2 separate regions of the Homo sapiens genome follow, and region 2 is linked to region 1. The links come from fine-mapping of genetic effects on plasma protein levels. Region 1 holds a variant in brackets. A gene starts in the other region. All regions are shown on their reverse strands.

The links. PIP is the posterior inclusion probability: the model's chance that the variant is causal. Protein levels are from antibody-based Olink assays in UK Biobank. Linkage for the fine-mapping came from a reference panel and not from the study's own genotypes, which makes the PIPs less certain.
Region 2: TFPI starts here. The variant in region 1 is fine-mapped to the plasma level of the TFPI protein (UK Biobank, PIP 0.97).

What each region holds. Positions count from the first base shown.
Region 1 is chr3:90,124,072-90,132,525 of GRCh38, reverse strand. No RefSeq gene overlaps it. Among named protein-coding and RNA genes, the nearest start is that of EPHA3, 1.0 Mb to the right of the region's middle. The variant C/A (reference allele first, on the strand shown) is at 3,763.
Region 2 is chr2:187,550,515-187,558,968 of GRCh38, reverse strand. It overlaps TFPI (tissue factor pathway inhibitor), which reads left to right and starts at 4,534. Exons shown (of 8, transcript NM_006287.6): 1 at 4,534-4,769. RefSeq lists enhancers at 325-907, 908-1,492.

The DNA.
Region 1 (8,454 bases):
AAAGCATGTCTGAGGAATTAAGTAAAAACAATAAATAAGTCATTTTACAAGAGTTCAGTGATCTGGAACTTCCTATTCCACTTACCCACATTGAGGTTGTGTTGGTTAGTGTCAGTGGGAAATCTTACCCTGAAATGGAAAAATATTAGCAATGAGTCAGCCTCAAAGGGTTCACATTGAGTTTGAATAAGTATCCTGAGTTCAAACGTCTATTGGGATCTTAGTTAAACCTCTACCATCTACTAGTGCAGACCAAAAACTTTGACAGAACTGGCTTTTTTCCAGTATTGCTCCAGCATCTTCTGTCTCTATCAGAATGTTAATTTCTAAATTCCCTATATCCCTTATGTTTAATATATTTTCCATTCTTGCTCAATGGGTGTTCCTTCTTCACAGACATAGTAACGTTGAAAGTAAATTTACATATGCAGAAGATATGCAGTGGTAGGAAAAAGGTGAAGAAAATCTAACACCAAAGAAGTAAAACTCAGAGTTTTAGAGCCTCTGATTATAAGTGAATATGAGAAACACATGGGAAAAGAAAAGGTTAAAACTTTACAAAATTCTGCAAAAATGCATGACAATAAGTAAAAACAGTGTTAAGTTAGCTGGTTACATACATTAAATGTCATTTGATGAGGTCTTTGTAAAAATAATTCAAGCTATTAGATCTTTGGTTTGCACTGCCAAGCATAATTTATCCATTATCCGTTCCTCGTTAAATCAGAAAATTTCATATAATGTATCTTAGTAATTTAAAAAAATGTGATATGGGGGTTGGGAATTCTGAACATCAATATTCTTATTACTAGACTTTCTTCATACTACACAAACTAAATCTTAAAGGAGGTTCTGTTTTATCCTAGAGTAATTCCCTAGCTATGACATCTTAAAATTTCATGCCAGTGTGTTTAGAGTTGAACAAATTAGGAAGATATGGGGAGTAAAACTGGCCCTTTTGTAATTCTATAATAAATTATTATTATATATTTTGCTAACTTTGTTTGCAACTTCTAATAAAATATTTGATTGTGGCAATAATCATTAACAAGTGATAAATACTATTAGGTGAAAGATTGCTACAGATATTCATGAGATGTAAAAATATCATCACAAATATTACTTGTTGGTCACCAAGGGAAAAAGATATACTTTTATAGAGAAGGGATAAAGCTGTCACCCCATCAACTGAGAATCCAATGTTAGCATCACTAATATTGCAGATGTGATGTATGTCTTATTGTGATGCAGTATGAGGTACATAGCATCACCTATAAAGTATTATGTTGCATCACACTCCAGCACAATGTTTGTTCTAATTGGCTTCAAGACTTCTTTTGAATTTTGAGAGAATTTCAAGATGAAATGAGTATTAAATGGTACAAAAAATTAAGTTTGTTAAGTGCAATAATGGTGTTTTCTTATACAGGAAAACATTATCTTTAAGGATTACAAATAGTGATGTGGTGTTGTATTTAGGGCTTAAATATCATGATGTCTATATTTACTCCAAATTATAACACAAAAATAGATTAAATAATATAGTAATTGCCAGTTGTTAATTGTGATGATGAATGTATTACTCAGGGTTCTCCAGAGAAACAGAACCAAACGAATGTATGTGTGTATATATACATATATACGTATATATACACCTATATATACATATATACGTATATATACACCTATATATACATATATACACATATGCACACATACGTGTGTGTATATATACACATATCTATGTGTGTGTATATATATGTACATATATATACACATATTTATGTGTGTGTGTGTGTATATATATATATAGACTGAGAGAGAGAGAGATTTATATTAAGATAATTTTGTTTTAAAGAATTGCCTAAAATGATTATGGAGACTTTACCAGCCAGTCCAAAATACGCGGGGTGGACCAGAGAAGGGCCAGTGTTCAGGTGAAGTCTGAAGGCCATTTGCTGGGGAAAGCTCAGTCTTTTGTTCATTTCAAGTTTTCAAATGATTGTATGAGGCCCACCCACATCATGGAGGACAATCTGCTTTACTCAAAGTTCATGGATTTAAGCATTAATCTCATCCAAAAACTTGCTTACAGAAACATCCAGAATAATGTTTGACCACATATCTAGACACTGTGGCCCAGCCAAGTTCACACATAAAATTAACCATCACAATGGGTATATGAAACTTATTATTTTTCTACCTTTCTGCTAGATTTAAAATCTTCGAAATTAATATTTTTTAAAATATTTAAAAATTTATCTTGTAGATATTTATTTCTTATAAAATGTTGTTCCATTAGTTGTTGTTTCATTAGTTGTATGAAAAATTAAAATATGAATTCTGAGAATACAGAAAAGTTTATTATCAGTGCTTACTTTATCAACCTTAGTCAATGACATTTACACACTGCTCTTTACAGTATTATACAGAGAACAGAAACGAAAAAGAAAAAAAAAATTGAAGTCTTTGATGTTTAAAGTAGGAAAAACAGATGTGAAAGATTCGGTGGTTTAGGTTTCTGGTATATTTTATGCTGCATCTGTGGAGAAAAATGAAAAAAATTATTCTAATCCCATAGAAGCTTTCAAAGGATTTTTTTTTAAATTGCAAGTCCAAATCAATTACGTCATCCAATGATATCTATATGGACATGTTTAAACAGGATTTGACATATCTCCTGGTCTCATGGCTTGTGGTGTTGAGACAAATTTTATTTTAATCATTGGATACTCTTTAGTAAAGACAAAAGAGTACTCAACCCATTTAGAATACTTGGGGAATAGCTGAGAGATGGTATGATTGCACTCGAGATTTCTGACAGAGCTCAAATTAGAGAGAGAAAAAACAAGTAAAAATATGCTGGTATTGTTTGTGATAACAACCAAGGCACTTAGTAAATAATTTAAAAAAATAATGCCTGATTCAATGATTTAAATCAAAACAATATGAATGCTGGAAAACTATGAATTAGAGTTAACTGTGCTCACAGGAGAAGTGTCACTGGTGGGAAAAAAGTTTCTTGCAATGGCCGCTGGGACAAGAATAGGAAGCAGACAGGGAACAGAGTAGCTTTTGTCCTCCCCCAGTCCTCCAAACTCCCTCTAGCAGCACCTATTCTCAATGTACAACAGGGAGACAGCTGGGTAAAGCAGAAATATGGTTTATAGATGTCCAGCCCCAGCATCACACAAAGCAGTATTGAAGGTTGCGCTTGAAGCTTACTATGCAGCACACATGCTACTGATAACAGATCACTGAATATAATTAAGAATTTTTATCTCAAGTAAAATCATGTCTTATACAAACACTATATATATCATAAAGCTTTGGCCATGATTGCCTCTACTTTTTCTCCTTAGGTTACCTTTGGCCACTTTATTCTCATTACCCCTTCCCTCAAAGTGGAGGAGAGAAGAAATGGAAAAGAATAGATATGATAATATATAGAAATTACAGTTTGAAGAGAAGATTAGAGACCAAGCCAGACACTATCTTATATTCTGGGAAATGTAGATGTCTGGTGAACACAAATGCCTTTGTGATCTTTAACACAGTATTTTATTGCTTATTAAACCTTCCTTCCAAAGTATCAAGCCCAGCTGAAAATATGATTATATAAACTAGGGATTAGAGTATGATCTAAAACTTCTGCAAGAGCATTTCTTTTTTTCTTTTTTGTTTTTTTGAGGCAGGGTCTCACTCTGTCACCCAGGCTGGAGTGCAGTGGCATAGTCATGGCTCACTGCAGGGTCAACCTAT[C/A]TAGGCCCAAGTGACCCCCCCACCTCAGCCCCACAACTAGCTGGGACTACAGGTGCGTGTCACCATTTCTGGCTAGTTTTTGTAATTTTTTTGGTTGAGATGGGGGTTTTCCATGTTGCCCAGGCTGGTCTTGAATTCCTGGGCTGAAGCAATCCACCCGCCTCAGCCTCTCAAAGTACTGGGATTACAGGCATGAGTCACTGTGCCTGGCCACATTTCTTATTTTATGCTAAAAATAGAATTATATTGGGTTTCTTATTTTAATAAAAAAATTAGTCCCCTCCATCTATAAGGTGTTGCATGTTTAATGTGTGACTTGATTAACAACAGCACACAGTCACCCAACCCACAGATACATAGTTTAAGAAACATGACAGCAAATCATTTATACATGTGTCACTTAAATGTATAAATGATGTTGGCTTTGTTAATATAGTCATGAATTGCTTAACAACAATAAAAATGGGATGTGTTCTCAAAATGTGTTGTCAGGTAATTTTGTTGTTGTGTAAACATTATAGAATGTACTTACACAAACCTACTTGACATAGCCTACTACACATATAAACTACGTGGTATAGCCCACTGCTCCCAGGCTACAAACCTATATAGCATGTTACTATACTGAATACTCTAGGTAATTATAATGCAATGGTGAGAATTTTTGTAACCAAACATAAAAAGTACAGGAAAAATACAGTATAAAAGACAAAAAGACAAAAATGATACACCTGTATAGGGCACTTTCTATGAATGGAGCTTGCAGGACTGGAAGTTATTCTGGGTGAGTCAGTGAAAGAATGTGAAGGTTTAGGCATTACTCTATACTACTGTAGACTTTATAAACACTGTAGACTTAGGATATACTAAATTAATTTTTAAAAAGTTTCTTTAATGATAAATTAGTTTTAGCTTAGTGTAACATTTTTAAACTTCTTTTTTTAATGTTTTAGCTCTTTTTAAATAATGTTTACCTTAAAACAAAACACATTATACAGTTGTACAACAAAAATATTCTTTTTTTAAACAAATATGTTTTATGTTCATAGCTTGGAAAAATTAATACTGTTTAAAATGTCCATATTACCCAAAGCAATATACAAATTCAATACAATTCCTATCAAAATTTCATGAATTTTTTACAGAAATATAAAAAATTTTCCTAAAATTTGCATGGAACCACAAAACACCCCAAATACCCAAAGCAATATTGAGCAAAGTAAATAAATACAACAAAACATACAAACAAAAAAATAAAGCTGAAGACATCATACTACCTGGCTTCAAAATATACTTCAAAGCTATAATAATCAAAACAGCATGGTACTGGCATAAAATACATGTAGACCAATGGAGTAGAATAGAGTGCCCAGAAATAAATCCACACAGTTACCGTCCACTGATTTGCAACAAAAGTATCAAGAATATACAATGGAAAAAGGACAGTCTCTTCAACAAATGGTGTTGGGACAATCTGATATCCAGATGCAGAAAAATGAAATTAGAGCCTTATCTCACACTGTATACAAAAGTCACCTCAAAATGGATTAAAGACTTAAACATAGAACTGAAATTGTAAAACTAACAAAAGAAAATACAGTGGGAAAGATCAATAGCACTGATTTGAGTAATGATGTTTTTTATATGACCTTGAAAGCACAGGCAATAAAAGCAAAAATAGGCTAATGGATCAAACTATAGCATCAAACTAAAAAGCTCCTGCACAGCAAAGAAAACAAGATTGAAGGGACAATCCACAAAATGGGAGAAAATATTTGCAAACCATACATCAGATAAGGAGTTAACATACCTAATATATAAGGAGCTCAAACAACTCAATAGTAAGAAAACAAATAACAAGATTTAAAGGATGGGCAAAGGATGTGAATAGACATTTCTCAAAAGAAGACACACAAGTGACCAACAGGTATACTAAAAAATGCTCAACATCATGAATCATCAGAAAAATGCAAATTAAAACCCCAATGAGATATCACCTCACACCTGGAAGAATGGCTATTATTGAAAGAGGAGAGATAACAAGTGATGGAGAGGATGTGGAGAAAAGGGAATCTTGCACACGGTTGGTAGGAATTTAAATTAGTACAATCATAGTAAACAATATGGAGGTTACTCAAAAAATTGAGACTAAAACAACTATCCAGCAATCCTACTACTGGGTATATATCCAAAGGAAATGAAATCAGTATGTCAAAGACCTATCTGCACTCCCATGAATCAACTTAAATGTCCATAGTGGATGAATAGATAAAGAAAATGTGAAATATATATATACAGTGGAATACTTGTCAGCCATTAGAAAGAATAAAATCCTGTCATTTGTGACAATATGGATAAATCTGGAGGGCATTATGTTTAGTGAAATAAGCCAGGCACAGAAAGACAAATACTGCATTATCTCATTCACGTGGAATGTAAAAAAGCTGATCTCATAGAAGCAGAGAGTATAACAGTGATTACCAGAGATGGTTAGGGCAGTAGTAAGGAGGAGAAGTTGAGGAGAGGTTGGTCAATGGGTACAAAGTTACAATTAGATAGGAAGAATAAGTTCTGGTGTTTTATTGAACAGTAGAGTGTAGTTAAGAATAACGTATATTTCAAAATAACTATTATAGAATAGAGGATTTTGAGTGTTCTAACTTCAAAGAAATGATAAATGTTTGAGGTAATGGATATGCTAATTACCATGATTTGATCATTACTCAGTGTATATATGTATTGAAACATCAGACTGTAGCCCATAAATAGGTATGTGTCAATTAAACTAATAAAAATAATAAAATGTATAGTTACTTCCAGGGGGTAGAAAATGTGGTATATATTCATGGTATACTATACAGCCTTAAAAAAGGAAAATCCTGTCATTTATGACAGGAAAAACAAATAAGATAATCCAATGTACCATTTGTTGAAAAGACTTGTTCTTTTTATTGTATTATCTTGACATCTTTGTAAAAACTCAGTTGACCATAAATGTGTGGGCTTAATTCTGGACTCTATTTCATTCCTTTGATCTATATGTTTATCTTTTCACTAAAAGTAGATTGTCTTGATATTGTAGCTTTATAAGTTTGAAAATCAGCTGTGAAATCCTCCAATCTTGTTCTACTTGTAAACATTGTTCTGGCTATTATAGGTCATTTAACGTTTCATATAAATTTTAGAATCAACTTTTCAATTTCTACAAAGAATTCCGCTGGGATTTTTATTGGGAATGTGTTTAACATTTAGATCAATTTAGGGAAGATTTGGTATCTTAGCAATACTGAGTCATCAGACTGTATGAACATATATACCTCCATTTACTTGGATCTTTTTTTTTTATTATACTTTTAAGTTTTAGGGTACATGTGCACAACATGCAGATTAGTTACATATGTATACATGTGCCATATTGGTGTGCTGCACCCATTAACTCGTCATTTAACATTAGGTATATCTCCTAATGCTATCCCTCCCCCCTCCCCCCCACCCCATAACAGGATCTGGTGTGTGATGTTCCCCTTCCTTTGTCCATGTGTTCTCATTGTTCAATTCCCACCTATGAGTGAGAACATACGGTATTTGGTTTTTTGTCCTTGTGATAGTTTGCTGAGAATGATGGTTTCCAGCTTCATCCATGTCCCTACAAAGGACATGAAGTCATCATTTTTTATGGCTGCATAGTATTCCATGGTGTATATGTGCCACATTTTCTTAATCCAGTCTATCATTGTTGGACATTTGGGTTGGTTCTAAGTCTTTGCTATTGTGAATAGTGTGGCAATAAACATACGTGTTCATGTGTCTTTACAGCAGCGTGATTTAAAATCCTTTGGTAAACAGGTGCTGGAGAGGATGTGGAGAAATAGGAACACTTTTATACTGTTGATGGGACTGTAAACTAGTTCGACCATTGTGGAAGTCAGTGTGGTGATTCCTTAGGGATCTAGAACTAGAAATATCATTTGACCCAAAAATATTCTTTCTTAATAACCTTGTTCTATATTTTTTTTCTACTTTAAAAATTATTTATTTTCTACTTTTTAAATGTTTTTGTTAAAAAAGACACGCATTAGCTTAGGCCTACACAGGGTCAGAATCATCAATATCACTGTCTTCCACTTTTATATATTGTGCCATTGGAAGTTCTTTAGGGACAATAACATGCATGAAGATATCATGTTTTATGATAATAATGTCATTTTTTTGAAATACGTTCTGAAGGACCTGCCTGAGGCTGTTTTACTGTTTATTTTTTTCCCTATTATGAAAGGAGTACATTCTAAAATAATAACAAAACTATAGTATAGCAAATACATAAGCCAGTAACATAGTCATTTATTATCAACTATTAGTTACTATACATAACAGTACATGTTACACTTTTATAGGACTGGCAACACAATAGGTTTATTTACACCAGCAGCACCGCAAACATGTATGTAACAAGTTTTGCTAAGACATGAAGGCAGCTACAGTGTCACTAGGCAATATAAATTTTTCAGCTCATTATCATCTTATGAGACCTCTGTTATATATGTGGTCTGTCATTGACTGAAATGCTGTTATATAGTGTATGACTACATAAATAAAAAAATCTGTAGAATCATAGAGACTCTCATATCTATCAATATAATCGTATTTGAAATTATTTGTATTGAAGCTACACAATAGAGCAGAAAAATTGCA
Region 2 (8,454 bases), not on the chromosome of region 1:
AGTTGACTCTTTAGCTGCAGTTGTCCTCCAGAACCGCCAAGGCCTTGACTTACTCACTGCTGAAAAAGGAGGACTGCATATTCATAAATGAGGAGTGTTGTTTTTACCTAAATCAATCTGGCCTGGTGTATGACAACATAAAAAAACTCAAGGATAGAGCCCCAAAACTTGCCAACCAAGCAAGTAATTACGCTGAACCCCCTTGGGCACTCTCTAATTGGATGTCCTGGGTCCTCCCAATTCTTAGTCCTTTAATACCCATTTTTCTCCTTCTTTTATTCAGACCTTGTATCTTCCATTTAGTTTCTCAATTCATCCAAAACCGTATCCAGGCCATCACCAATCATTCTATACGACAAATGTTTCTTCTAACATCCCCACAATATCACCCCTTACCACAAGACCTCCCTTCAGCTTAATCTCTCCCACTCTAGGTTCCCACGCCGCCCCTAATCCCGCTTGAAGCAGCCCTGATAAACATCACCCATTCTCTCGCCATATCACCCCCCAAAAATTTTCACTGCCCCAACACTTCAACACTATTTTGTTTTATTTTTCTTATTAATATAAGAAGGCAGGAGTGTCAGGCCTCTGAGCCCAAGCCAAGCCATGCATCCCCTGTGACCTGCACGTATATGCCCAGATGGCCTGAAGTAACTGAAGAATCACAAAAGAAGTGAATATGCCCTGCACCACCTTAATGATGACATTCCACCACAAAAGAAGTGTAAATGGCCGGTCCTTGCCTTAACTGATGACATTACCTTGTGAAACTCCTTTTCCTGGCTCATCCTGGCTCAAAGCACCCCCACTGAGCACCTTGCGGCCCCCACTCCTGCCCGCCAGAGAACAAACCCCCTTTGACTGTAATTTTCCTTTACCTACCCAAATCCTATAAAACAGCCCCACCCTTATCTCCCTTGGCTGACTCTCTTTTCGGACTCAGCCCGCCTGCACCCAGGTGAAATAAACAGCCATGCTGCTCACACAAAGCCTGTTTGGTGGTCTCTTCACACGGATGCGCATGAAACTTTATTTATTTTATTTTATTTTATTTTATTTTATTTTTTTATTGATCATTCTTGGGTGTTTCTCGCAGAGGGGGATTTGGCAGGGTCATAGGACAATAGTGGAGGGAAGGTCAGCAGATAAACAAGTGAACAAAGGTCTCTGGTTTTCCTAGGCAGAGGACCCTGCGGCCTTCCACAGTGTTTGTGTCCCTGGTTACTTGAGATTAGGGAGTGGTGATGACTCTCAACGAGCATGCTGCCTTCAAGCATCTGTTTAACAAAGCACATCTTGCACCGCCCTTAATCCATTTAGCCCTGAGTGGACACAGCACATGTTTCAGAGAGCACGGGGTTGGGGGTAAGGTCACAGATCAACAGGATAAGAATTTTTCTTAGTACAGAACAAAATGAAAAGTCTCCCATGTCTACCTCTTTCTACACAGACACGGCAACCATCCGATTTCTCAATCTTTTCCCCACCTTTCCCCGCTTTCTATTCCACAAAACCGCCATTGTCATCATGGCCCGTTCTCAATGAGCTGTTGGGTACACCTCCCAGACGGGGTGGTGGCCGGGCAGAGGGGCTCCTCACTTCCCAGTAGGGGCGGCCGGGCAGAGGCGCCCCTCACCTCCCGGACGGGGCGGCTGGCCGGGCAGGGGGCTGACCCCCCCACCTCACTCCCGGATGGGGCGGCTGGCCGGGCAGAGGGGCTCCTCACTTCCCAGTAGGGGCGGCCGGGCAGAGGCACCCCTCACCTCCCGGACGGGGTGGCTGGCCCGGCGGGGGGCTGATCCCCCCACCTCCCTCCCAGACGGGGCGGCTTGCCAGGCAGGGGGCTGACCCCCCCACCTCCCTCCCGGACCGGGCGGCTGGCCGGGCAGAGGGGCTCCTCACTTCCCAGTAGGGGCGGCCGGGCAGAGGCACCCCTCACCTCCCGGACGGGGCGGCTGGCCGGGCGGGGGGCTGACCCCCCCACCTCCCTCCCGGACTGGGCGGCTGGCCGGGCGGGGGGCTGATCCCCCCACCTCCCTCCCGGACGGGGTGGCTGCTGGGCGGAGACGCTCCTCACTTCCCAGACGGGGCGGCTGGCCGGGCAGAGGGGCTCCTCACTTCCCAGTAGGGGCCGCCGGGCAGAGGCGCCCCTCACCTCCCGGACGGGGCGGCTGGCCGGGCGGGGGGCTGACCCCCCACCTCCCTCCCAGACGGGGTGGCTGCTGGGCAGAGACGCTCCTCACTTCCCAGACAGGGTGGCTGCTGGGCAGAGGGGCTCCTCACTTCTCAGATGGGGCGGCTGCCGGGCGGAGGGTCTCCTCACTTCCCAGACGGGGCCGCCGGGCAGAGACGCTCCTCACCTCCCAGACGGGGTCGCGGCGGGGTAGAGGCGCTCCTCACATCCCAGACGGGGCGGCGGGGCAGAGGCGCTCCCCACATCTCAGACGATGGGCGGCTGGGCAGAGAGGCTCCTCACTTCCTAGATGGGATGGCGGCCGGGAAGAGGCGCTCCTCACTTCCTAGATGGGATGGCGGCCAGGCAGAGACACTCCTCACTTTCCAGACTGGGCAGCCAGGCAGAGGGGCTCCTCACATCCCAGACAATGGGCGGCCAGGCAGAGACGCTCCTCACTTCCCAGGCGGGGTGGCGGCCGGGCAGAGGCTGCAATCTCTGCACTTTGGGAGGCCAAGGGAGGCGGCTGGGAGGTGGAGGTTGTAGCGAGCTGAGATCACGCCACTGCACTCCAGTCTGGGCGCCATTGAGCACTGAGTGAACCAGACTCCGTCTGCAATCCCGGCACCTCAGGAGGCCGAGGCTGGTGGATCACTCGCGGTTAGGAGCTGGAGACCAGCCCGGCCAACACAGCGAATCCCCGTCTCCACCAAAAAAATACGAAAACCAGTCAGGCGTGGCGGCGCGCCTGCAATTGCAGGCACTCAGCAGGCTGAGGCAGGAGAATCAGGCAGGGAGGTTGCAGTGAGCTGAGATGGCAGCAGTACAGTCTAGCTTCTGCTCGGCATCAGAGGGAGACTGTGGAAAGAGAGGGAGAGGGAGACCGTGAGAGGGAGAGGGAGAGGGAGACGGAGAGGGAGAGGGAGAGGGAGAGGGAGAGGGAGGAGAGGCGAAACTTTCAAGAAAGAAAATCTGATTGGCTGAGCTTGCCTCTACCTGAGCTACAGATTCCTCAAAAGTTTAATCAAGGTCCATGGTGGTACCAAGAAAAAAGGACTTTCCTCTACAATCTGAGTGAGATGATAGCTTTGATTGTGGTTGAGGGGCAGGGCATGAGGTAATAGGAGATAAGTTATTAACATGATATGAAATCCAGAACATGAGTGAGAAGGCAGCATGGAGGAGGATTTATGCATTTTTGCTCTAAAGGCAGACTGCATGACATTAGAATCACAGCTCCACATACTGAACTCGATCTTCCTAGACATGTGAAATGGGCATACAAAGAGGACCTTCTTTATAAGCTAGTTGTGAGAATTAAATCGATAATTTATGTTCCAGTCACCACCAAATAATTATTCAATATGTATTAAAAACACTCAAGATGAAAGGTTACCTTTTACAGAGAGGTCTAAGGAAAGCAAGAAAAATTGAAGGCACAAAGAATCTGAGATGCAGAAGCAAGAAACTCCTACATTTTCTGACCAAATGTCTTCAGCCTTCCTGGCAAAGTAGATTCTGCCCATTTATTAGATCTCTAGTGATCTTAGTCTGATATGACCATAATTCCAATACAGAGACAGTACGGATGAACCTCAATGATAGGGACATACAGCAGAGACTCTGGTTGACATCTGTAAATATTTACATATTTTGTAGAATAATAATAATAGAAATACAGAAAACAGCGATAATGATAGCCAACAATTATTGGAGGTTTGCTACATGCTGGGTCCTGCCTTAAGTACTTTTTATGTATTAAGCCATTTAGTACTTACATCAAGCCCAGAAACTTTTATTATCGACATTTTAGGAACAAAGGAACTGAGGCATAGTGAATTCAAATAACTGGGCTGAGTAGCCAAGTTAGCAAGTAGCTAAGGTAGGGCTCAAAGCCTGACACCTGCAATAGATAATGCATTACATTGTCTCACTAAGAGAGACCTCCAACGGTAGCCCTCAGACTTTTAAAAAAAATAAATACATTGACAGTGGGTGAAACAAATGAAATAACTTGAAGAAGAAACAAACTGCAAAAAAGCTTATTAACAGTGTAATAATAAATATGTAATTTTTTAAACCCTAACTCTAGGGGGAAAAAAGCATTCTTTTTCAACTGATTACAAAAACAATCCTGGAAAGTAAAGGAAATAGCTATTCAAAATGATCGTATCTGAAATCTTGGTGTAAGCTGTTTCCTTCATCTGTTTCCTCCACTAAAAAAAAGAAAGAAAGAAAGAAAAAAGAGGTTTAGACTAAATAGAGTCAGAGTTGCAGTGACCTAAACAGGAAGTTGGGCTATTCCCAACTGCCAGTGATCTCTGAAGCCGACTCTGAGGCTCCCTCTTTGCTCTAACAGACAGCAGCGACTTTAGGCTGGATAATAGTCAAATTCTTACCTCGCTCTTTCACTGCTAGTAAGATCAGATTGCGTTTCTTTCAGTTACTCTTCAATCGCCAGTTTCTTGATCTGCTTCTAAAAGAAGAAGTAGAGAAGATAAATCCTGTCTTCAATACCTGGAAGGAAAAACAAAATAACCTCAACTCCGTTTTGAAAAAAACATTCCAAGAACTTTCATCAGAGATTTTACTTGTGAGTACCTGGCAATATACTGTCTAGCCCATAAGAAATAACTTTAATTTCTTTTTCTCGGGGGAAAAGCAGGGTGCTGAGAGGCAAAGAACTGATAGGGGAGGATCACTGTTTATTTGCGTAAAATGAAAATCAGCCCTTCCCTGTAAACAGAGTAAACTCAAACTGCAATCCAAACTTGAGTTCTCAGCATTTTGCATTTAGTTCTTAAGCAAATTTATGTGCAATTTTTATGATTTTAAACCATAAACATTTTTGTAACTAATTGGTGTATGTAGCTTTTTTATAATTTGAAGATTGTAGTAGAATTCTTTACTAATTGTGCTTGGTTAATTGGAAGTTCTTGAAAGTTCGGTTTACCTTTCCATTTTATTTCATAACATATAAAATAGAGACTGTTATTCTTCTATTCAAATAATCTTTCAATACTATTAGTTGATGATATTTAAAATGAGGTATAACCATTAAAATAATCGTAATCTAAATGGAATATTTTATGCCAGCATTAACTAATCTCTCTAAGGAAATATTTTACAATTCTCCAAAGACCAAAGGTCATATTCTGAGATACTTAAACGAGAATACTTACGATCAAGTCTATGTTGTGCAATTTTGTAAATTAAAACAATAGATAACATGCCTACATGATGTACTGTTATGTTCCTGTTATAAAATGTTTGCTTCTAGTGAAAAATGAAAGCATATAATACAGCAGTAAACAACCACAGAAATATAATGAGAGAAACAATTATTTAATTATGAAAAAGCACTCATTAGTATAAAATAATTACCAAAAATAAGGGCCAAGAGTACTACCATGTGGGAAAAAAGAAAAGATAAGCAACAGCCACACTGTGACTCAGTGCTCTGGAAATTAGTCACAAAATGACTTTGTATAACATGAGATAATATAAACACAAAGGGCAAAACTCAAGCAGGAAACATACTGCCCAGAGAGTCATATTTCATGTGTAAAAGCATAATATTTACATGAAAGGGGGAAAGTTGTGACAATTTTGAGAGATACTGCAAAACTTTTGAATAAAATGTGTTAGGGAGGCAAAATCTCCCTAACACATTTTAAAGATTATTTTAAATCTATCATTCTAGTGCATGATTATTTCAATATACAGTGTCCATATCTCATCTAATCCTTAAACTAAAGAGGGATAGTCCCTGAAATTTGGCTGAGTTTGAAATGTTAATTTGTGGCCTACAGCTTAATAAAATTATATGAAATATAATTAGGGATCAACAAAGATTGAAAAATATTAATGTAAATACAGATAACTAATCAAGTAATTTTAAAATAAGAGTAAAACTTTAAAATATTTATTTTTACTGATTTGAGTAGTTATATTGGAAAACCAAGTTTTTCTACTTCAAGTGACCACAGAATCTTGTTGGAAAAGTTTAATGACATATACTACTATTTGATTCCTATCTCTATTAGGTATACTGAATTGGACAAGTTTTTGTTTTGTTTTGTTTCTTTGTTTTTAAGGTACAGTCTGATATCTTTTGTTTTACCACCAATGACTAAATCAAAACTCCTTTGGAAATGTGGTTCCTGTCCAAATGGATTATGTTATCAACTGGTGTTTGATGGTCTGACTGATTGTCCATTTATCAGTCAGATAATCATTTAAGGAAATGATTATCATTTGCTTGTTGATTGTACAACTATTTTGACTTAAATCTTCTGTCATAAAACTTATTGTTAAATTAATAATACATAAAATGATAACATATTTTGTAATAAACTCTAATTTTCAAAACAGCTTAATTATCTTAAAAATTAATTTTCTAATCTTTAGAAATCTTTTGTTTACATCTTTCAAATTCAAGAGGTAAGTGGGCAGGATGGCAAACTAATGGAGAAAAAATGCCAACTTTAGAGACTTAATTTAATGCCAGAGTGCCTATCCATCTAACCAAATAGTAAATATGCTATCAATTCCTTAGGAATGGTTGGCTGATTAAATTCAGTGTCACAAAATTTTAAGGTATCTTTCAACTGATATCTCTACCTAATACAAGAAAAAAAATGCAAAGTAAACATCCTTACAAAAAATAAAAAGGAACAGACAATATGAAAAGTGAAGAAAATTACTTAGACTAGGATTTTCAAAAAAATCTTATCAGTATAAATTAATTAAATTGAATTATAATATAGGTTAAAATGGGTTAATTATATCATCAATTTATTTTTTTCTATGTGGACATGATCTAAGAATTGTACTACAATACAACTCATCTATTCTCAATAAAGGCCTTCTACAACCAGCCATCCTTTTTTGTTTACCATCTATAGCAATTAACTCATTTTAGGAATTAAATTTGGCAGGCTGCCTTTTTAAAACACAAATATATTTTCATGCATTAGTGTCAAAGGTAGATTCTGCTATCTTTTATAGAAATATAGCAGTACTATAATTCTTTCTGATTGCTACAATGTGCATTAGGAGAAACTTGAATTCAATAGACATGTGTTTCTGGATATCAAATCTCACCAGAAACAGGGAAGTGTTCAAGTGTTTCCAGCAAGTTCTCTTCATAATAGACCATCTTTCCTGGCTTTCTGAAATCCTCACTGACTGCTTTCTTGGTGTTATGTATCAATTCCGGGGGCCCAGTCTTCCCATTACCTTTCTCTCCCTGTCTTCACTTCTCCAAGTGTCAGGTGCCAAGTAGAACCACAGCCTGAGATTCAACTACCAGTAGCTACCAGTTGCTGAAGGCAACTTCTTCACCTCTACTTTTCTTCTTCCTCAAACCGACAATAACAGAAAGTATGGGCCCATGTCAAATCCACTGTTTTCTCTTTAAGCCTCTATTTGGGATGCTATGTCCTCTCTTAGTTGGAACAACCAGGTGTTAAAATTACTTCAAAAACAAAAGAATATAAGGACATCATGGCCCATAATAGAAGTTCCAATGCTGCAGTACAACTATCCCAATTGTTCCATGTGATGGACCACAGGTCTCTGTGTAGACTTGGAATTATTGCAAGGAATTACCCAGTCAATATGTGAGTAAAAAATATTATATATTGCTTATTAGGGCATAAGAAAGCTATTTCAACATCAGAAATGTGAAAGTATTCATCAGTAGGACACTGATAAAATGTAAACAGTTTTTATTACCAAGCACAATGTGCCTTTGACACCCTCGAAATATACCACACCCTCAAGTGCTGCCACCACACTGCTGCCAACCTAGTCTATCTCTTCTCCTCTTCTTGACCCTTATCTATTTCTATCCAGTCCTTGAATTCTATGATAATTCATCTGTAAGCATCACTTCATTCCTCATTCCTCATTTCCCAAGGCTTAAAAACAGAGTAAATCTCAGAAACAGGGTAAGTCTCCAGAATAATGGTGTTTATTATGAATATTTTGGTAATATTTTAAAGTCCATTTAGGAAGCTTCAAAGATTAATTTTCATCTCAGAAAATGAATCACAATGGTTATATTAAAATGTAATACAACTTTTCTCTAGTTTTTTGGACATATGGAAAATACTTTACATTTTTAATATTTTTGTCTGCTAATTCTGTTTTTGATGTCATTTCTGTCATTTAGACTTTTCTCATTATGAGTTATATTCTACTGTTCTTTGCATCCCTAGTAATTTTGATGTGGTTGCCTAATATTATGAATTTTACCTTATTGGGTGTTGGTA